Regions from separate parts of the Homo sapiens genome. Here region 1 is linked to region 2. The links come from fine-mapping of genetic effects on gene expression. Tissue or cell type: adrenal gland. Region 2 holds a variant in brackets; the other region holds the start of a gene. All regions are shown on one strand. Distances are between the middles of the regions.

Evidence for each region. PIP is the estimated chance that this variant, and not a neighbour inherited with it, causes the effect.
Region 1: STT3B starts here. The variant in region 2 is fine-mapped to the expression of STT3B in adrenal gland (GTEx, PIP 0.92).

The regions. Positions count from the first base shown.
Region 1 is chr3:31,525,477-31,537,088 of GRCh38, forward strand. STT3B (STT3 oligosaccharyltransferase complex catalytic subunit B) reads left to right here and starts at 7,449. Exons shown (of 16, transcript NM_178862.3): 1 at 7,449-7,836. The coding sequence starts at 7,523. RefSeq lists enhancers at 1,375-1,875, 7,132-7,271, 8,122-8,181, 9,621-10,122, 10,123-10,622 and silencers at 6,772-7,031, 7,342-7,571, 7,602-7,731, 7,812-7,961.
Region 2 is chr3:31,424,812-31,436,668 of GRCh38, forward strand. No RefSeq gene overlaps it. Among named protein-coding and RNA genes, the nearest start is that of STT3B, 100 kb to the right of the region's middle. The variant AT/A (reference allele first, on the strand shown) is at 6,037.

The sequences.
Region 1 (11,612 bases), 100 kb after region 2:
TCAGGACTTTTGTTTGTGCTCTCAGGAAAACCAGGCATGCCTAAAGAAATGAAGCTGCAAACTTACAGCAATATAAAGTCAATATGGTCATGGGAGGTGGTGGTGCCAATATGACCTAAGAGAAAGTCTGCTAAAATAATTTCTGGGAAAATGTTTTTCTTAAAAAAGGAAGACATATGTGATTGGCATCTTCCTGTCTCCTAATCTTCTGCCTCAAATGCTGATGTGATGTCTGGGGCTGCAGCAGCTGTCTTACAATAGTGAGGCAATAATCAAGAGAATGAAAACCAATATGCTAAGTGAATTGAAAGTGTATTACTAGGTTCAATCAGGAAAACAGAGATACTCTAGGTACTTCAGGAATAAAAGGTTTAATCAAGAATTATTATTTACACTAATGTTGAAAGACCATAGGGAATAAAGATAAGAGAAGTTGTTGCCTGAAGGTCAAGGTCAAGGAAGGAGACTTTGAAAACTTTAGCCTGAAGGACTGAAGCAGGGAGCTCTCAGAAGTTCTCTAGGAAACTGCTCCAACTCTCAATAATCTCCAAAAAGCTCCCCAAAATTGTCTTAGTCAATGACAATTATGTAAGTTGTTCTCACACCAGCCAAAAAGATGTGTAAATCTTACATTTGCCCATTCTTCCTTTTCTATCTGAAATCCTCTCTGTCTTTTTTGTCGACTGAGCTCCCCTCACTGACAAAATATCATGGAGTCATACAAGAAAAGAATCTGGGAAAAGTACTTCTCAGCTTCTGCTATGCAATGCAAAGGACAGCATAAAAGGGGGTGAAAATGACATCCGAGAATCCAGCAAAGAGTATAAAGACAGAAAAAGTTGAAAGCTTTGTTGAGCAACTGACTTCATACCAGCAACCACCTTTCTCTGAATTTCACTTTATGAGAGAAAATAAACTTCTATTTGTTTAAGCCATTATCCTTTGGCCCTTTTTGAAATCAAATGTGTGCCTCACTGTTACAATGTCCTTCTATGAAAACCATGAGATAGTGGGCATAGAAATGTGAATTTTCAAAAGTACTAAAATAGAAAATTAATTTCCTATATATGATCTGGAATTTTAAGACTAGAGTGTTGTGTTGTTTCAATGGTAGCAAATAAAGATAAAATGTGACACTGCATCTCAGCTGTAGATTACTGGCTCATTTCCAAGTGTCCCCTGCTTGGCTTTGTTTTTCCTTTTCCTCTGCTTTTTTTTTTTTTTTTCTTTTTTTTTTTTTTTTGAGACGGCGTCTCGCTCTGTCGCCCAGGCTGGAGTCCATTGGCGCGATCTCGGCTCACTGCAAGCTCCGCCTCCCGGGTTCACGCCATTCTCCTGCCTCAGCCTCCCGAGCAGCTGGGACTACAGGCGCCGGCCACCGCGCCGGGCTAATTTTTTTGTATTTTTAGTAGAGACAGGGTTTCACCGTGGTCTCCTTCTCCTGACCTCGTGATCCGCCCGCCTCGGCCTCCCAAAGTGCTGGGATTACAGGCGTGAGCCACCGCCCCCGGCCTTCCTCTGCTTCTAATGCATCCTTCCCACACTCCAAATCTCACTTGTCAACATCCTACCTATTCATTTTTTTTTTTTCTTTCTGTCACCCAGGCTGGAGTGCAGTGCTGTGATCTCGGCTTACTGCAACCTCCGCCTCCCAGGTTCAAGCCATTCTCCTGCCTCAGCCTCCTGAGTAGCTGGGATTACAGGTGTGCACCACCATGCCCGGCTAATTTTTGTATTTTTAGTAGAGATGGGGGTTTCACCATATTGGCCAGGCTGGTCTCAAACTCCTGACCTTGTGATCTACCTGCCTTGGCCTCCCAAAGTGCTGGGATTACAGGCGTGAGCCACAGCTTCCGGCCAACATTCTACCTATTCTTTAAGGCCAATCACTTCATGAACATGTCCTTGATGACTGCCCAGACACAAGCTCTCACTCTTCACAGTGATCATGATAGAAAACATTCTCTGCCTCATACTGGATTTTGAGCTAGATTAGATCACAGCAATCCCCTTATCATCTACCGCAAAGGCCAACAAACTCTGGTCTGCAGGTGTGGTTGTGTTTACTGAAGAACAGCCATGCCTGTTCTCTTACATATTGTCCATTGCTACTTTCACACTACAACAACAGGGTTGAGTAGTAGCCTGAGACAGCATGGCCCACAAAGATGAAAATATTTACTGTGTTGCCTTTTACAAAAAAAGTTGCAGACCCCAGTTCTATTGGATTATAAATTGGAGGTTATTATTCATTATCAGCAGCTAGGTATTGCCTAACTTTGTAAGGTGTTTTATTTGAAGCAGGCATTTTCTGGCTTAAAGAAATAAAGAAGCACTCGTATGGGCTCGGGTCATGGAGAATTATTTTAAGGCTATCCAGGGGAGTAAGTCTCATAGCCCATCTGTCATGGTTCTGAATATAGCAGTAGTACCAGTGATATTGTTAATAACCAACATATATTGAATATTTCCTTTGCGCCAGGCACTGTCCTAAGTTATTTTCATGTATTGATTCATTTATTTCTTCTTATAACCCTAAGAGAAAGGTTCAGTGCTTATCTACGCTGTAAAGATGAGGATACCAAGGAGCAGAGATGGGAAGTAGCTTGCCAAAAGCCATGTGACTCAGAAGAACTAAAGTCAAGATTTGGTACCCAGCGTGTCTGCAGAGCCTGTGCTCTAAACCACCACACAGTACCACTTAGCAGCATACCTAGCTCAAATCTTTTTTCTCCCTCTCTGCTTCTCTCCTCTACTGGGGCTATGGACTACCAGGGAGGTTCTTTGACAGGTGCTTGTCAGAAAGGGACAATATAAGCATTGGGAATTCCCTCAGTTACCAGATATTTGCAAATGTCAATTATATTGTAGACCGTAGCAGCCCCCTAGTGTGGTGTGTCTAGTACAAGCGTACATGTCTTGTTGTTTGTGTTTCTCTAGGAAGAATGAAACCCACTCTCCGACCTGTGTCATTCCTGGGACACATCACAGGCACTTAAATCTTTTCTTGATCACTGTGGGAAAGGCTAGGGACTGCGGATCGTAATTTAGTTTTTTCTTGGTCTGATTTGGTCCTGTCTGTGCTTTTGAAACCAGACTTTTAGAAAGGGTGGTATACATTCTCTGCCTCCACATCCCTTGCCACTGATCCCTTCTCACCTGCTGCCATCTGGTTTCTGCCCCTATGACTCCACTAAAATTGACCTTGCTAAAGTAATTGGTGAACTCCTGGTTGCCAAAAGAAAGGTACACTTTTCAGCTGTGTCACACTCCATTTCTCTGTACCTTGTGCTGCTTCTGACTTCACTTTATTTCCCTTTCTTCACTGCTGGGACATTGCTCTATCTTGGGCTCCCTGTAGGCACATCTAAATTTGGAAAGTCCTTAGGGCTCTATCCTCAACCCTTGTCTCCTTGTCTATAGCCTTGATTCCAGCAAAATTTCACCCGTAGCCATGGAGTCCCAAGCCTTTATCCCAGAAAACCCTTCCTCCTGAACATCACATCTCTTTAAGTGTCTGTTATCCAGCTCCTCTTGGATGTCCTACAGGGACTTAAAACATTACATCTCCAAAGCTGATTTGATCATCTCCCCTCCAAATCTGCTGCTTGTCCTTTGCTCCCTATTTCTGAGACATCACTTTCCATCCAAATAACTAAACCAGAAACTCCAGATTTGTCCTAAACCCTACTTTTATTTTACCCCAATCACCAATTTCTGGACTCTACCCTCTTGATACCTCTCCTATCAGTCCTCTCCTCTCTGAGCCCTACTGTCCCAGTTTTGGTACCTAATTCTCTTGCCTAAATTTCTGTAAATGCTTCCTTATTGGTTTCTCTGCTTCCACTCTCACCCTTTCCAGTACATCTTTCATACTACTGTCAATTTTTTTCTTCCATCAACCAAGTCTGATCATGTTATTGTTGTTCAAAATGTTTCAATGAATCCCAGCTGCTTACAGAATAATAAACTCCTTTACCAGGCAGACAAGTCCTTGATAATCTGGTTCTTATCCCTCTTTCAGTCTCATCTCCCAATGCACCTTCATTAATATTAAACTTTGTGTATTAATTTGAAGGACTTCCTCGTTCCTTCTTGGAATCCCCCATCCCTCTTCCTGGTGTGTCTTGTGAACTTCTGCTCACCCCTCAAGTTTCAACTCAAATACTCCCTTCCCCTGGAAGCTGGGCCTCTGATGTCACACCACTCTGCTCATCATGTTGCACCCATAGTGTTTGATTGACTCCTGAGATATTTGAACTCAGGAGGATGTTACAAGCACCTAGCAGGATTAGAACCTCAAGTGCAAAGGGGCAAACACATTCAAGCTTCATCACAAACTGTAAACAATTTTTCCAAGTTGATAGGCTAGAAATTGTGAATTCACAATGCTGCAATTTATTTTTATGGGTTCTCTAGTGGTTCCACAATAGCATATTCCTCACAAAAGTAATCTCTGAATTCTCAGGTAGAGCTTTTACTGGTCTCCTCTCCAAAATGCTTTTCACATTGCAGCCTTGGTAATCTTTTCAAAACACACATCTGATCAACTCTCTCCCTCTATCTCAAATACACTACATGCTGCTTAAAACCCTTTATGGCTTCTCAATATTCTGAAGTTAACATGAAGCAAAAAACACCTCTTAAAAGGACCTACACTACCCGGCCATTCCTTTGACTCCTACTGCACCTTGTCCCACTGTCTGCATTGCAGCCACTTTTCTGGGTTACTCGTATGCCTCCCCTGCCCCACTGCAGTGCCTTTGCACGTGCTTCTCTATGTAACGCGTTCCATTCTCCTTCTCCTCGTCCGTTCATCATCACTTCCAGTGCTGCTTCCTCAGGGTAATGTTTCTCATCCTTCTGGTGTAGATCAAATTCCCCATGTGCCTGTCCTCCACAGTGTTTGTCACCCTGCATTTTGGTCCTGAACCATCTGATGATTTGGTTAATACCTCCCTTCCTAGGGCTGGCTGGTGAACTCTCTGAGAGTAGGAGCCCTGTCTTTCCTGTTCCTAGCTGAATCCCCATGCATCCCAGTTCACTCACAGTGGTCGGCATAAAGGAGTTCAATATATACTTGCTGAATGAATGAGTGAATAAATGAAGGTCAAAAATCAAGGGGTTTTCGTAGGGCTTTTCACCTTTACCACTACCCTGTATTTGCACGTTCCTTAACAATTTCCTAAAATGCTTTCAGATAAGCTTTTTTAATATTAACAACTGACTTTAAGAGCAGAAAGGGCAACCCATGCAGGTGACTTGTCCAATGCTACATGACTAGTAAGCAACAATTTGGGACTATTTCACTTTGTCACTTTTCAGATCAGGCCTATGGCCATTAAACAGCCAAAACAGGAAGCAAAAGAAGATAACGTAGAACTTACTAGGGAATAGATACACAAAGACAATAAAATAGAAATATCCAAACAAATTAAAATAAAAACACAAATTTTATTTTAGACTGATAAAACTTTGGTTCAGGGAACACAGACAAAAATCCTCTGCTGTCATTTCAGCATGTACCGTTTGGGCTATGAGGAAAAGCATGTCATCTTTCTCTGTATAACAGAGGCAGTTAATATTTTATCCTAATTCTCATTAAAATGTGTACGTTCAATAAATGTCGGCTATTAAACTGTTGGTGAGAAAGTCTATTTCTGGAAACCTTTTCATTATTTCCTTAATAAGACTATTTATGGTTTTTTTAAGGAAACAAGACAAAACGTAACCACTTAGCAGGTTAAAAGGGTAGCTGGAGTTGCCTTACTTTCAAGGAGCTACCTCAAAATAACTAGGGTTCATTTATCTAATATTTTAAGACTTCTATTAATATTGAAACACAATTTGTAGTTAAAGAGAAAAATTTAAATCACCTAAGAAAATAATTCAGGGCCTTTATAGTTTTACATTAATATGCCCTTTAATATCCAGATGTTACTTACCTAATAAAATGTACAATTAGCTGTGAATTGACATGAACAAGTATTTACTGAGCACCGATTACGCCGAAAGCTCCGTACTTTCTATGGGGTTTATATAAGAGCAATTCGAGTCTCCCCACTACCTCACTTAGTTTAAGCTCATTTTGCCCTGAGTTTATCTGGTAGCACTTTATTTTAGCGGACAAGGAGGGAAGTGGGGAAAGGAAAGGAATTATAAAAATACAAGGTAGACGTGCACAAGAACCTTCGTTCTATTATTATTTAGTAAAGTGAGAACTGGAAACAGCTTAACGTCCAGGGTAAGTTAGTTTCACTCACTCGACGGAATGTATGCAGCCGTTAATGTATTTCTGCATTTTCCCATATTTCCAGTGAACATACAGTACTTTCGCAATTCGGAGTACAAACGAAAAAGGGCGAGAGAAGGTCGCATTTTGCCTGCCGGAGCTAGGGGCGCGCTTGCCGGTTCCAACGAGTTTTCGGTGTCGGAAAACTTGTCTTTGCTCACATTCTCGGATTCCCGCGGCCGCAGAAGCCGGAGGCGGGACGTGAAGGGCAATGAGCAAGGTAGGCTGTGTCACTGCCGCCGCGGGCTCACTCGCAGCGCCAGCCGAGGAGCGCCACGGGCTGCTGAACCCCTCGGCCCGACCCACGCGCCGAGGGCTAGGATAATGCGCCTGCGCGGCCGTCACGTGGTGAGGGCTCCGCGCAAAGCGGGTTAAAAGTCACGACCGCGGAGAGCCCGCGAGCGTCCTGCTGGTCGGTGCGGCGCTTTCCGCGTCCTTTAAGACGAGTTTGACCGAGGCCGCTCCGCAGTTCCCGCCCCTCGGCCCAGCTCAGCTCCATGAACCTAGCGGAGCCGCCTAGTACCCTTTCTCGCCGACCGCACAGGCGCGCGAAACCGCGTCTTTCAACTGACAATGAAGCCGTAGCCGCGCAGCTCGGCCACTCCGGGCGAATCGGCGCGAGGCCGGGATGGTGGGGGGGAGGGGGAGACGGTTGGGTCAAGCTCCGCCCCAGCTCGCGCCCCTATTGGTGGGCGCAGCGGTTCTGGGCCCGCCCCCTAACGGACCTGTCGCTTTGTGACAGGCGGAGGGGCCAGTTCCTGTCGGGCCGGAGGCGGAGTCAGAGGTTGCTTGAGCTCCGCCCGGACTCCAGGGGGCTCCTCCCCCTGCTCCTTTCGGCTGGGCGGGCGGCGGGCTAGAGAGGGAATGTCATTGCTTCTCAGAGCCGTGGTGCCGCCTCCGTCTGCTGCTTCTTTCCTGGCGCCCTCGTCCCGTCGGCTTTCGCCGCCGCCGCCGCAGCTGCACTGGGGATACGGATGGCTAGTGGGGCGCCGGGGCCATCTGGGTTGAGAGAGCGGCGATTGCGGCCGCTGCTGAGGCGGAGACTCCCCGCCGCCGCTTCCTCCACCCCCAGTCCGCCGGCCTCGCGGCGCTGAGGGCGGGAGCGCGCAGAGCTCTTCCCTCCTCCTTTTTCTTCCTCCTCCTCCTCCTCCTCCGGGTCCCCGCCCAGCACCCCTCGCACCAGGCGGCGGCGGCGGAGGAGGAGAGCTAGACCCGCCGCCGGGGCACAACATGGCGGAGCCCTCGGCCCCGGAGAGCAAGCACAAGTCGTCCCTCAACTCGTCCCCGTGGAGTGGCCTCATGGCCCTGGGAAACAGCCGGCACGGCCACCACGGGCCCGGGGCCCAGTGCGCGCACAAGGCGGCGGGCGGCGCGGCGCCGCCGAAGCCGGCCCCGGCGGGGCTGTCCGGGGGGCTGTCGCAGCCGGCTGGGTGGCAGTCGCTTCTCTCCTTCACCATCCTCTTCCTGGCCTGGCTTGCCGGCTTCAGCTCGCGCCTCTTCGCCGTCATCCGCTTCGAAAGCATCATCCACGAGTTCGACCCGTGGTAAGTGCCTCGCCGCCCCTCCCCCGCCCGTGGCCCGCGGGGAACCGGGACCCGCTCCTCCGCCCGCCGCAGCTCTCCTCGACTTGGCCCCGCGCCGCCGCGGAGCCCCGCTCGCGTCCTGGCTGAGGCCGGCGCGGATCCCGGAGCTCCGGGCGCGCCCCCTGCCCGTGGGCGAAGTTTGCCCCGTGCAGCCTGAGGCGGGGCGTCGGGGTCCAGGAGCGAAACCTTGATTCTCGGCCGGGCTAGTGTGAAGACTGCCAGGAGTGTGGATGCAGCCGCCGGGAGTGTGGGTGCAGCCGCCGGGAGTGTGGGTGCAGTCCCTCGCAGCCCGCTTTGGTCGCTGAGTCCGGACCCGCCACGCCAGGAGGCGGCAGGTAGCTCCTCCGCGGACTGTCGGTCGATTCCCCGCCCTCCTCGCCCGCTGCTTTCGCGTTCTTTCATATTTGCGGGCGCGTTTTTGCTAGTTCAGACGGAATCGGCCAGGGGGGCTGCCCTGTTGCCGCTGGAGGTGGGTCCAGATGTGCCGGAACCCCGGCTGCTCACCCTTGCAGTTTTACGCTTTTACTGTTTCTTTTTATGCTCTCATGATACGAGAAGGGAAAAGGAGAGTGAATGGCGTGTTGGAGGGAAGGAAATAATACCCCTGAAAGTGATCTGAAAGCTAGCTACTCTTATTTATTTATCATTAGGTATTTTAAAGAGTGGCTTTTTTTCAGAGCTCTTAAGTGCACTCAGCACCTTACTGTTTCACTATCGTCTTGGGTTGCTTTTTAGAACAAGATCCTTACCCTGTTAGCCACTGTCACCCTTAGTGTGTTATGCACAGTATCTGAAAGCATTGCATTAGTTCCTTTATTGGTCTGCAGGAAGGTTTGTGGATAAGAGCAAACAGTACCACGGTGATGGGAGTCCTAGATTGTAATACCGAAGTTGCACATGGTGTAAGGGACTGACCTGAATGTTTTAGGAAATTACCCCACTCTTAACAACACTAGCTAACTTAGACACTACATTGGTCTGTGAATTATCTAGATGGAAAGATTGCTTTAACTTTTTTTTCGCAACTTGCCCAACCCGAGTTAGGATTTTTCCCCCTGAGTTAGGATTTTCCCCTCTGAGAGTATGCCTTTTAAACTAGTGTTATCTTATTGACCTGTCAACCTTGAGTTAATCTTACTTCCTCACAGTTAGACCTAATTAAATTTCAGGATATTTGTTTCATCATTTGAGATTCAAAGAGAGAGAGTCTTTTTTGAGAGTTACTAACTATATAGATAATAAGTGTTCGGGTGGAGGGGGGCAGTAACTTACCTGTATAGTAATATACCAGATTTAAGTTCTGCATTATGGAGAGAAAAATTGGTACTGCAACATCTATTGAACACCAGAGGGGCCCACTCATGGACAATTCAATTTAGATCAGTTAATTACTGTGACAGTCTTCCATGAAATGTTTTCATTCCATTTTAGAAGTTTTGATTTTGTTTTCTAACACTAGTTTTTTTAAAAAATAACCTTTTTGTTAACGTGCAATCACAGAAGAAAATATGTTAGTGTAGACTATTTATGAGCCTAAGAATACCTGTGAAGGCTTATTGACACAATATTATTAGGTGGTCTTGTTTTGAAATACTTAAGCAAGTTAGATAAAAATGAAATTGGAACCAGAAAATGAAAACTAGTATTTACTGGACAATATGAAAAGAGAAAGTTCTCTTTTCAGATTAAAATAGCAGAAATGCATGGTTGACCAAACATTTCAGGTAACAAAATTGTGAATATTTCCATAGTAACATTTTTACAAATGGAAGGCTAACGACTGTTTAATAGTAACTCTGGGGCTGAAATTAAAGATTGCAGAAAAATTCACTACTGAATGATGAGATTTTGGTCATTTTTCCTTAAGATTAGAAATCTGCATCAAGTCAGCCAAAGATCCCCACTAAAATTGAGTAATGCAATAATGAAAAGGCTCAACAAGTAAAGTGGCTAATATTTTTATTTTTTATTTTTTATTTTTATTATTTTTTTTTTTTTAGTGTAGCTAAGTATTAAAAGTTTTCTTTTTCCAGCTTCAGTAGTGTGGTTGGAGGGCATAATTCTTTTTCATGCACATGAAAATATGTTTTGGTCGGGCGCGGTGGCTCACGCCTGTAATCCCAGCACTTCGGAAAGCCGAGGCAGGTGGATCACCTGAGGTCAGGAGTTCGAGACCAGCCTGGCCAACATGGTGAAACCCCCTCTCTACTAAAAATACAAAAATTAGCCGGGAGTGGTGTCGGGCGCCTGTAATCCAGCTACTTGGGAGGCTGAGGCAGGAGAATCTCTCGAACCCGGGAGGCGAAGGTTGCAGTGAGCCGAGATCGCGCCACTGCACTCCAGCCTGGGCAACAAAGAGCGAAACTCCGACTCAAAAAAGAAAATATGTTTTGCTTCATTTTTTATATATATGAAAACGCATTTCTGACACATTATCATTTAGCTAAATTTGTACCATTTGAAAGTATACATCTCTGTTTTAAAGAGCTACTTAATTTAGGTATTCTGCATATAGTTTTAATGTTGACATTTCTTAATTAAATGTTTATATTCATAATGTTAGATAATCTTGCTTAGTAGTAAGGAGATTTGTATAATAATGGACTGTCTCCTGTGCCTTACCGTGAATGGAGATTTGTCAGTATGAATCTAATATAATGTCTAATTCAGGTGACTTAATGAGAGAATCAGGTTTCAGACAAAAAAAATACCTTGTTCTTGTTTTTTTTTCATGTCTTTTGAAGATCTCACGTAGTTAGGCATCTCATTCATTCTTATCTGATTCTTACAGTCATTCTTTTTGAAAAGGTTAAAAGGAGGGGGATGTGTAGATTGCCTGCCATTATTACTTTGGGCTTTTAAAGCTTTTCGGGGCTTTTAAATCTAGTTTTCTTCTATAGCTACTAATAGTCGCAACACTTTAACTGGTCTGTAGCTGAACACTCTAGTGTTTCTAGTTTGGGAGTTGCTCAGATCACCATCATATCATATAGCAATGGCACAGACCTTTAATAATATTTAAATGTTACTCTCAGGCTGTGCATCCACAAACCGATTTATTCTGGCCTGCTCATACCTTCCCTGACCTCTTTTTCCATATCTCTATCAATGGTTTCATTTCTGCAAGTCGTTTTAGTGAAGGGTTTACTTTCTCTGTGAGCTATTTCTTTAAATTTTACAGTAGTTCTTAAATTGTGTAAAAGACTCAAGTTAGCTGCTGAAAGTGACGTCACAGAGTTATACTTGTTTTTTAAATTTGTCACCCAAGTTATTTATCTTACCAGTTGTCATAAGGGGTGATGTGTGATTTATTTATTGAAGTACACTGCACTTTTTTAACATTTAGCAACATTTTTGGTAACAATTTGACTTCACTTTAGTAATTCCTCCCTTATCAGCTGAGTTGAACAGATAGGAGGAAGCAGTTTGAAAATATATTGTCTGTACTTGCCAAACGTTTGGTTAATCAGCCACTTTAACAGCACTTAACTATACCTTTTTATCTGGAACAAAATGTGTTTTCTACATATTTTTATTGTAAGAGATAATACTTTTACTTTATATTAGCCAGATACCTTCTCCATATCCATTATCTTGTTCAATTGTGGTAGCCTTTCCCATAGAAGCAATGAAGTTCCCTATGTGAGAGCTCTTTTTTCCCTGCCTTAGCAGGTTATAAAGTGGGTTCTCCCTAGAGAGAATTCTCTGAGCCTTAGGTTTTGGCTGTAGTTAGCAAA
Region 2 (11,857 bases):
AAAGAAAGAAAGAAAGAAAGAAAGAAAGAGAAAGAAAGAGGAAGGAAGGAGAGGGAGGGAGGGAAGGAGGAAGAGAGAGAGAGAGAAAGAGAGAAAGAGAAAGGGAGGGAGGAAGGGAGGGAGGAGGGGGAAGGGAAGGAAGAGAGACACTAATTAGCAGGACACACAGAGGAAAATAGAGCTTCTAAGATTAGGTCTAGTTGCAAGCTGTAATATATAGCCATGTGTACTTTGTAATGAATGCCCTTTTCTTGAAAATACCTAAGTGAATCTCTGTGTATACCGACTGCCCAAAATGGGCCAAATTCTCTGTCTCCCCCTGTATCTCCCTGATCAATACCCCTTTGCAATGTGACTTTGTAGGTCCTCTAATCAAATATCTATTTTCATACCCTTTGAATTTGGGCTGGTCTTGTCACTTCTTTTGACAATAAAATGCAATAGAAGTGATAGTGAACCAGTTCCAAGTCTGGGTCTTAACAGGTGCATGATTTTGTCCTATTTTTGGAATCCTTGCCAGTGCCACAAAAACAAATGTTGAAGAATGAGAGAAACCATGTGAAAGAGAACAGTCATTCCAGCCATCCAAGTCATCCAAGCCCCTTCAACAACAGCTGACCTTCAAGCACATAAGAGAGCCCACTTAAGATCAGCAGACCTGCCTACCCAACCTAGAGCTGATTACAAACATATGAAGCAGCTCATCCCAGGTCAGAAGAACTTCCTAGCCAATACATAGGATTTTTGTTCTTTGGTGTGTTCATATGGTAGATTATATTGGTTCATTTTCAAATACTGAGCCATCCTTGCATTCTCAGGATAAATCCCACTTTGTTGTATTGCATTATTCTTTTTATATATTCTTGGATTCAATTTGCTGATATTTTGTTGAAGATTTTTGTATCAATGTCACTGGTCTATCTTCTTTTCTTGTACTATCTTTGGTTTTTGTATCAAAGTAATGTTAGAGTTGTATCATGAGTTTGGAAGTATTCCCTCCTTGTTTATTTTATATAAGAGATTTTGTAGAAATGGTGCTTTGGTCTTCATTAAGTGTTTGGCAGAATTCACTAGTAAAGCTCTCTGGGTCTAAAGTTTTGGGATTTGGTTTTGTTATTGACTTTTGTTTTCTGTGGGATTTTTTTTTGAAGATTCCTAAATATGAATTCAATCTCTTTAAAAGATATAGGACTATTTTTTCTTAAATAACTTTTGCTAATTTTTTTTCTTTCAAGGAATTGGTCCATATTATCTATGTTGTTGAATTTATGTGTATAGAGTTATTTATAGATTTTTCTTATTACCATTTTAAAGTCTGCAGCGTCTGTAGTAATATTCCTATTTCATTTCTGATGTTGATTATTTGTGTCTTTTATTTTTTCCCTGGAGCGTATGGATAGATGTATTGTATTAGCCTGTTCTCACACTGCTATTAAAGACATACCCAAGACTGGATAATTTAAACAAGAAAAAGGGTTTAATGGACTTACAGTTATACATGGCTTGGGAGGTCTTACAATCATGGTAGAAGGCAAGGAGGAGCAAGTCACATGTTATGTGGATGGCGGCAGGAAAAGAGAGAGCTCGTGCAGGGGAACTCTTTTTAAAACCATCTGATCTTGTGAGATTTATTCACTATCCTGAGAACAGCACAGGAAAGACCTGCCGCCATGATTCAATTACCTCTCACCGGTTCTCTCCCACAACACATGGGAATTCGAGATGAGATTTGGGTGGGGACAAAACGAAACCATATCAGGTATTATGTATGTATTATTGATGTTTTCAAATAATTGCCTCTTTGTTTCATTGACTTTTCCCTATTTTTCTGTTTTCTATTTTATTGATTTATGCTTTTATATTTATTATGTCTTTCCTTTAGCTTTCTTTTGAGCTTATTTTGCTCTTCTTTTACTAGTTGCTTAAGGTGGAAGCTTACAGATTTGAAACTTTTCTTCTTTTTTAATATGTGCACTTAATGCCAAAAATTTGAATCTAAACACTGCTTTAGCTGCATCCCACATATTTTAATACGATGTGTTTTTATTTATTTCAAAATATTTTTTAATTTGCCTTAAGATTTCCTCTTTGATTCATAAATTATCTGGAATTATGTGTTTAATTTCTAAATACTGAGGGATTTTCCATATATATATATATATATATATATATATATATATATATATATGTATATATATATATGTATTTTTTGTTTGTTTGTTTGTTTTTTGAGATGGATTTTCACTCTTATCACCCAGGCTGGAGTGCAATGGCACAATCTTGGCTTACTGCAACCTCCGACTCCCTGGTTCAAGCAATTCTCCTGCCTCAACCTCCCAAGTAGCTGGGATTACAGGCATGTGCCACCACACCTGGCTAATTTTTTTGTACTTTTAGTAGAGATAGGGTTTCACCACGTCGGTCATGCTGGTCTCGAATTCCTGACCTCAGGTGATCCACCCTCCTCAGCCTCGCAAAGTGCTGGGATTACAGGCATGAGCCACCACATCCGGCCCAGATATCTTTATTGATTTCTAGTTTGTTTTCATTAAGGTCAGAGAACATACTTTGAGTTATTTCAATTCTTTTACATTTATTCAAGATTGTTTTATTATTGAAGATATGGTTTATCATGATGAATATTCATATGGACCTAAAAATAATGTGCATTTTGCTATTGGTAAGTAAAGTGTTTTTTAATGTCAATTAGATCAAGCTGGTTGATGGTGTTACTTAGATCTTCTATACCCTTGCTGATTGTCTACTTTTTTGATTAGCTGGTAAACTAGAAGCATTGAAGTTACCAACAGTAATTGGATTTGTCTATTTCTCTTTTCAGTTCTATTAGTACTTGCTGTATGTATTTGAAGTCTTCAACTATGGTAGTTGGATTTGTCTATTTCTTCTTGCAATCTTTTAGTTTTTGTCTAATTTATTTTAACAGTGTGTTTTTTGGTGCATACACAGTAAGGATTGTTATGTCTTCCTACAGAATTTGCCCCTTTATTATTACGTAATGCCCTCCTTTGTCCATAATAATTTTCCTTGCTCTGAAGTCTGCTGTGTCTGAAGTTAATATAACTACTCTAGCTTTCTTTTCATTAGTGTTAGCATGGCATAACTTTCTCCATCTCTTTATTTAAACCCTATCTGTCTTAATATTTAATGGGAGTTTCTTGTAAGACAATACATAGTTGGGTCTTATTTTGTGTCCACTTTAACAGTTTCTGTCTTTTAATTAGTGTATTTAGACCATTTACATTTAAAGTGATTTTGGTATATTTGGATGAATATCTACCATATTTGTAACTGTTTTCTATGTGTAGCCTTTGTGTCTCCTCTTTTTTTGGTATTTCCTTCTTTTTCTGCCTTCTCTGGTTTTAATTGAGCATTTTATACCATTCTATTTTCTCTCCTCTCTTAGCATTCAATTATCCTTCTTTTTAAAAATTTTTACTGGTTGCCTAGAGTTTGCAATATACATTTACAACTAATCTAAGTCCACTTTCAAACAACACTGTACCACTTCATAGCTAGTACAGTTATCTTGTAATACAATATGCCCAATCCCTCCCTTCCATCCCTTATGAAATTGCTGCCCTTTGTGTCACTATCCATAAGGTATATCATCCAATATATTATTATTTTTAACAAACTGTTAACTATTGTTAGAGCAATTAAGGATAAGAAAAGATTTTATTTTACCCTCATAATTTCTTCTCTAACACTCTTCCTTTCTTTATGTAGATCTGAGTTTCTGACCTATATTATTTCCTTCACTCTAAAGAAATTATTTTAACATTTCTTACAAGGCATGTCTTGGGACAAATTCCTTCACTTTTATCTAAAATGTCTTATTTCATTTTCACTTTTAAGGGATAATTTTTCTAGACACATAATTCTAAGTGGATAGCTTTTTTCTTTTGACACTTTAAATCTTGTACTTTACATTCTTCTTGCTTGCATCATTTCTGAAGAGAAGTCTAGTGTAATTCTTATCCTCATTATTTATAGGTAAGGTGGTTTTCTTCCCCTGGCTTCTTTGAAGATTTGTGTCTTTGATTTTCTGTAGTTTGAATATGATGTGCTTTGGTGTCAGGATTTTTGTTTTGTTTTTGTTTTACTATGTATCCTACTTGATGTTCTCTAACCTTCCTGGATCTGTGGTTTGTTGGATGTCATTAATTTTGGAAAATTCTCAGACATTATTATTCCAAGTATTTCTTCTGTTCCTTTCACTTTTTTGCCTCTGGTATTCCCACTACATGTATATTATACCTTTTGTAATTGTCCTAGATTTCTTGGATATTCTGTTCCAGTTTTTCATTCTTATTTCTCTTTGCCTTTCAGTTCACCCCGTTTCTATGAACACATCTTTAAGCCCACTGATTCTGTCCTCGGCCATGTCCAATTTACTGATGAGTCCCTTAAAGGCATTCCTCATTTCTGTTATCATGTTTTTTATTTCTAGTATTTCATTTTGATGCTTTTTTAGAGTTTACATCTTTCTGCTACATTTTTTTCTTCTAGCACCCTTAGTATATTAATCATAGTTACTTTAAATTCCTCATGTGATAATTCCAAAATTTCTGCCACATCTGAATCTGGTTCTGACATTTCCTTTGTCTTCTCAGAATACGTTTTTTGCTAGAAGCAGTTTCTTGACTTCTAAGCAACATTATCTTCCTTATGTTGCTTTTCCAGTCATTCCGGGACTTTTGCTATGTTAAATCCCTCTCTGTTTAAACTACCTGGAAAGGTTTCAATTTTCCTATTCGATGATGACTGGGACAATAGATGAAGTAGGGTCCTCACATGTGGTCTCTGGGGATGCCATGCATAAGCAGCTAAAAGAGTTCTTATTAATACAATTGGAGAAAAATATATTTTTTAAGTTGCGCCTTGGGGAGCAGCAAAGAGATCAAGTTTATCACTGCAGTACAAATGATAAAAGAAAACAGAAGCTTAAATCCATAAATTTGCTTGTGCTCTTGTCCTGCTCTTAAGTATGCTATTTAGCCTGAACATGATATACACAGCTATTAAAATTAAATATGAACCCTGTGACATCTAGTATGATGAGGAAACTGTGACCACCACCACTGGCATCAGGCCATAATCATACAGTCTGTGGCACTGCCACATCCATGCCAGGAATTCTAACTCACAGCCTTAAAATTTTTTAATTTAAAAAAATTATTAAAAATTAAAGGGAAAAACTACAGTTGATGTCCTTCAATAGGTGAATGGATAAATAATAACTGTAGTCCATCTGTACAATGAAATATTATTCAGCATAAAAAAATAGTTATCAAGCCACAAAAAGGTACAAATGAGGCCAGGCACCATGGCTCACACCCACAATCCCAGCACTGTGGGAGGTCCAGGTAGGTGAATCACCTGAGCTCAGGAGTTCGAGACCAGCCTGGCCAACATGGCGAAACCCCACCTCTACTAAAAATACAAAAATTAGCTGGGCATAGTGTTGGGGACCTGTAATCCCAGCTATTCGGGAGGTTGAGGCAGGAGAATCACTTGAACCCGGGAGGTGGAGGTTGCAGTGAGCCAAGATCGCACCACTGCACTCCAGCCTGGATGAAAAGAGTGAAACTCTGTCTGAAAAAATAAATACATAAATATATAAATTTCTATATTTGGAAATAAAACTATTGTTACACTTAAAAGAATATTGTACAAAAGATGCTCAGTTTAGAGATAGAGCCATTAGTTAATCCATATAACAAGAGGAGAATCATATTTTCTCATAAATTTCATCCTTTCATGCATTCCCATGGGAGCCAAAAAGTTAAGACATTATTATATCAGAAATAAAAACCATAGGTTGAATTACCCCACAAGTAGGACTGTTCCTAAGGCAGGTTTTTAAATCTTCTGTTTTGTAGAAATTAATCCTTCCACAAACATAACAGAAACTGCAAGCTTAACTTCATATTTATATAAAGAGAAGGAGAGAAAGGAACACAGACCAATATACACATACCATTTTAGAAAGCGGTGTCTTGCAAACACAATCAC[AT/A]TTTGCTTCTTCATGCTAAATCAAGATTGCAGGGTCATTCAGAAGTGAAATTAAATGAGGGAATGATAACAATATGCTTGAGTAGTTTTATTTGTGCCAGTCTGGAAAAGTATATTACACCCCAAAGAAAGAAATAATAGTACAGCTGAATGACAGCATATTTATTGCTTATTGCAAGAAAAAAAATGAATTATTTCAAAGCCATAAAACTATATTTGATAAATATGTTTAAGACAATAAACATAAACAAATCTTTGTTTATAATATGACCTTACTCAAACTATAGTTCATCCATGCTTCTGTGATGGTTAGTTAAAGCTAGACTCTGATTGAATAAGCAAAAGAGATTTTTCAAAGGATGGTAAGTAGTTCACAAAATCCTCTGGAAATCTCGAGAAACAGGCTTGAGATGAGCTCCCAGGAACAATTCCTAAACCCACACTGCAGAACTAGTCTGATGACAAAAATGTTATCACTACCACTGCCACCAAGCAGTATTTATGAGTTCGTACCACTACCACATCCATGCCAGAAATTCTACCTCACAGCCTTAACCTCCCAAGAGAGAGATTTATTTTAAGGACTTGGCTCACATGACTGCAAAGGCTTAGCAAGTACAAAATCTGATAGGGTAGACCAGCTGGGAGGAATTGCAGTAAGTCCAAAGGCAGTCGCTTGAGACCCAGAGAACAGCCAATGTTGTGGCTGGAATCCAAAGGCCATCTGCTGGCAAAATTCCGCCTTGCTTGGGGAGAGGCTAGACTTTTGTTCTATTTAGGCCTTCAACTGATTGGATGAGGCCCACCCACACAATGAAGGGCAATCTGATTTGCTCAAAGTCCCAATTTAAATATTAATCACATTCAAAAACACCTTTATAAAAACATCCAGAATCTAGATAGTTTGACCAAATATCTAGATGCCATGGCCCAGCCAAGTCAACACATACAATTAACCATCATGTTATTCCAGCTCTATTCTGTCACAAGCTTTTGGGTAAAGGTTTGGCAAAGATCTGATGAACAAAGTGAATCAAGCAGGAAAAAGAGGACACACTCAGAAAGATACTTTCAGAAAGTTTATTAGGGGGGCTGTTTGCAATGGTGTGGGAAAGGATGGTAAAGCACCCAAAAACTAGCGACAGGGGGAAAACATTACTGCACCTAGATCTGAAGGGCCAAGGGAAAGGAGCTATTCTGGAACCTGGTGACAGCTTCCCTTCCCAAGCTGGGCTCTTAGGTATAGAAATGTAACAACAGTAGGAACACTGCTCAGCATAGATGGAGCTGGGGGTTAATGTCCCCACTGCACTCCCCTCCCACTCTCCAACTGCCTGCCATTGCTGCCATTGGCCAAACCCAACCAGAAGCAAGAGACAAGGAAACCTTGGTGATGTAGTCCATCCAAGTCAGCCTCCTGGAGGACAGGAAAGGTAGAGAATGGTGGAGAGTGGATCTGGAGGGACAAACAGAAGAAACCCATATCACCCAAAGCCTAGCTCAGAGGCCTGAGCACCAGCTGTTGGAGAGACCAGGAAGGTGAGCTCTGCCTTCTACCTTCAGGAGGTGGATTTTAAATGATGGAAAATTCCAAGGTAGAAAAAAGGAAGGTGTTCCAGTGATGCTGGGTGGCTACAAGCAGGACAACTGGACAACTGTCCTCTTTAAACTCAGTTGGGTACTGTTCCCAATATCATGGACATCTTCAACATCAGTTGGGTACTGCTCCCAAAATCATGGACATCTTCAAGCAGTAGCCACTGCTGTGGTACACATCTCTCAAGGGTACCTCCTCACATGCAGGCCTTTCTCTTCTCTTCTAGAATTTTCTTTCTCCTAGGACCACAAACTCTTTGCATTTTCATCCAGGCCAATATCTTTTCTCTTGGAGGAGATTAGACATTTCCTAATATTATCTGAGAGAAAGAAACAAGAAACAAATGAACACACTTGCACAAAATTAAAACTTTTCATTCCAGCAAGGACACTCTGAATATATAATTTAGTGCCCAAATCTCCTATTTAATCTTAGAAATACTCAAAGTCAAAGGACCTTGGCCTGACTCCAGGAGAGATTCAGAAAGGACACACAGCAGCCTCCTGCTGTCCCTGTGGCAGCTCAGGTGATGAACCACCAATCTGCAGTTTGGGGCAATGGAAACTGGCATCAGCCTATGTGGTGAATTCTCAGGGTTTTATCTTGCCTTGGCATTCATTTTGAATACAAGTTTAACTTTCTCATACCAGAAGCAGGGCTCAGTCATCCTGGACACAGTTTCCAGTTCTACACCACATGCAAATGGCTCAAGCCAGTGGCCAGAGATAAGAACTTAGAGGTATCTCTCCCACCTGGCAGACTGGGCTCCCTGTTTTCCTGCCACTTCTTTCAAACGGATGATTCAGACGTTTGCCTGCAAACTTAAAGTGATCCACATTATTCTCTTATACATGCTCTAGTTGCCACATGCTCACTCTCGTGTTCTTGCTCTCTCGCTGTCTCTCTCTCTCTCTCTCTCTATCTGCCTGAGCCTTCTTTACTGCCTTAGGTGATCCGGGGACAAAAGACTGCCCTCCTGACTCATTATGTCCTCCTTGCTCGGAAAGTAAAAATCTTTGAACTTGTTTCCTCTTTGGTGATGTATTGAATTTGCACATTTCATCTGAAGAATCAGGGGCTTCCCCAAACCAGGTTTTCCTTGGGACACTGGAAAGAATGTGAGGTCAGGCTCCCACGGCCAGAGTGATGGTCAGGCAGGCATAAAGTGGACATGGGTCAGACAAGAGCCACAAGGATGTCTGCCAGTATAAACAAACTTCCCATTTGCAAGACTCCTGGTCACAAGTTGAACCACTAGGCTTAAGGCCATCTGCCATGTAAAGAAGTATAGTATGCTAAGAGAGGCAAACCATAAACACCCACAGGCAGCTTCCCCTGGGCAGAGTCACTAGCCACTCTGGTACTGGAACCCCAATTTAGCTGCAGACTTTCAAAACAGCTCCTCCTCCAGGTGTCTCCTAAAAACCACATACACACCATGCAAATTTAATATTAAAGTCTAGAGCTTTTACCTCATAAACCATCCCTGTAAAAATTGACCAAGGTCAGAAGTCACAAATGGTAGCCCATGGATCAAATCTGCCCTGAAAAGTATTTCACTGGGCTGCATTCTGTTAACCTACATCAATTTTAATATCATTTTTTTCATTGCCAACATTTAAACATTGGGAAATTCAAAACCAAAATCCAGATTACAAGATTCTCCTGAAAATTAGGATGCTCTGGGAAGACTGGACTCATATCCCACAGCACAACACAGCAGCACTCAACAGGAGCTGAGAAATCCCTGACTTCTTTTGATAGGATGTGTGCTGTTCAGGTCACCACTTTTGTGCCCTAGAAGCCAAGGTTAACCATGAGTAACTGATTGTCATTATATTCCTGCTATTGTTTTTCTTATAGTTATGTTAGAGAGATAAGTATTTTTCACACACATCTCTATCAAAATACAATGAAATTTAGACTAAGAGAACCATGTTTCAAGAGAAAGGAGAGGGTGTATATTTTTGTGCTGAAGTGATCCAGCCTGTCTCACTCATTTATGCTTTCTGCATAGGTCTGAGCCACATTTGGGGCTGTGATACCTGGAGTGACCCTTATCGACTTCTTTAGACCCACTTTTGCCTCTCAGTTCCTTACTTGACTTAACTTGCTTGTATAATTCTAAACACGAAAGTAATTTTTTAAATACAAAATGCCACCTATGGTCTTGTCTGATCCATAAGAATGGAGACACCTGATTTCTTCTTTATTCAGTTATTCAGTATTCATTCAACAAATAATTACTGAGCATTATGGGCAAAGCACTTTGCTAAGCACCACAGATACAGCAACAAGCAAGACCAGTGTGATCCTAGCCCTTGTGGAGCAACCAGTCTCTGCTTTTCTAGAAATGAACTGGAGTTTATTACGATGTAGGAGCCTCATTTTTCAGTGAGTGACTTCACAGCTTATTTCTAAGCCAGCACACTGGCCTGGAAAAGTGTTCTTGAATATGGTGATTTTATTTCTATGAGAAAAAATCGGACAAAGAGGTAGAAGGACAAAAATTATTTTCACTAACTGGGGCCCAAATATTTTCATTACTACATCAGTCAGGTTAAGCTGTTGTGCTGCAGTAACAAATGACCCCAAGTTTGGTCCATCACAGATCAGCTATAGTGCTTCTCCAGGTCAGCTTCACCCTGGGGATCAGACTGATGGAGCTGACTGTTTGTGACCTGGCTGGTTTGTAGCAGAAAGAAAGAGGTATGGTAAAAATCACACAAGAGCCCTTAGATCTTCTGTTTGCAAGTCTTGCACATCACTTTCACTTATATTCCTTTGGACAAAGCAAGTCACATGGCCATACCTGAGTTCAGCAGGGCAGGGATATATAACCCTCCAGCAGAAGAGATACCACAGGAAGGGCATTTCAGGGAAAGACAATGTTTTCAACAATAACACAATCTATCACAAATAGCCATACAATCAGCCACTGGATGATGAGGGTCATCTGGTCCCTAGAGATCAAAACAAAAACAGTTTTGGCATAAAAATCATATCTGCAACAAATTGATAGTCTCTAATGAAAAAGCCAAATAACATAGCAGAGGAAGAAAATGAAAATCTCAGAGTCACTTGTGTTCCCTCGTTCCTCACTGAAACAGCCCCAGCCACATGTTTTCCTCACAAGGCAGATGAATGCTCGCTATGTATCATGACCCCATTCCAAGGTGAAGTTTCTTCCTGCCTTCTCATCATAGCCTGAAACAGGAAACCTAGAAAATTGTTTTGGGGGGATATTAAATAACTTCCTGATTTAATTGATTGATGAATAATAACTTCTAAAATTAGCTCTGCATTTCATTCCATAATGTCTGGGTGAAATCCGCTCAGCTTACCTGAAATCTTAGGAAAGGCAAATACTGAACAAACTCCCTTTAAGCTCCTAAAATTGTTATTCTCCAGTTTTCTTCCAGTCCTTACACACAGGGAGGGGAGAGCAGCTCACATCCATTTGTATAGCTTCTCTTTCCAAGAGCACCCACAGGTTTATAATTATAACCATCCAAAGGCCTTCATTCTCTCTTCACCCCTTTAGAAGAAGATAAAAATTGGGCATAAAGATTGATAACTGCAATTACTTCCCACTCAAGCTAACTCTTACCTTTACTCCCCCAAAATTTACCAGTATAAATTAGAAAATACAGATGCAGAAGGCAGCTGTGTTATTCATAAAGATCTAGGACAGGAATCAGAGGACTGTAATACACAAATGCCTAGCAGACAGGAAAGAAATCCTCCTTGTCCCCAGAAAAGAAGGCACTTAACCTCAATAGGGAGAAGAGGGAGAGGAATCCTGAGGCTTTTAAAACAATTATCCATATTTGCAGACCATCTGAGTTGCAGTTTATTTGTTTAGTTTACTTTCAGCCTCAAAGAGGCATATATTAAAGTTCCCCAAGTTATTCTACTATAGGCTACAAATGTTGATTCCAGGATAAAACATAATTAAAAATAGAAATATTCTTGTCATGAATCTGAAACCCTTTTTGAAACTGCCCTTGCAAAACAACAAAGCTAACTGTCTTTGCTCATTCCCGGGCATAGGCCAAGCTAACTGTGAGAAGAATGTAGTTTATAGTTGAACTTTAAAATGAAGATGATAACAGCCCCTTCCCAAAATGAACCCCCTCTTTATTCAGGGACTGAAACTGCCTTGTAAAACTAATAAATTGGCTGCAAGGCTAGAAATAGGTTCAGGAGTCATGTGGCCAGAGG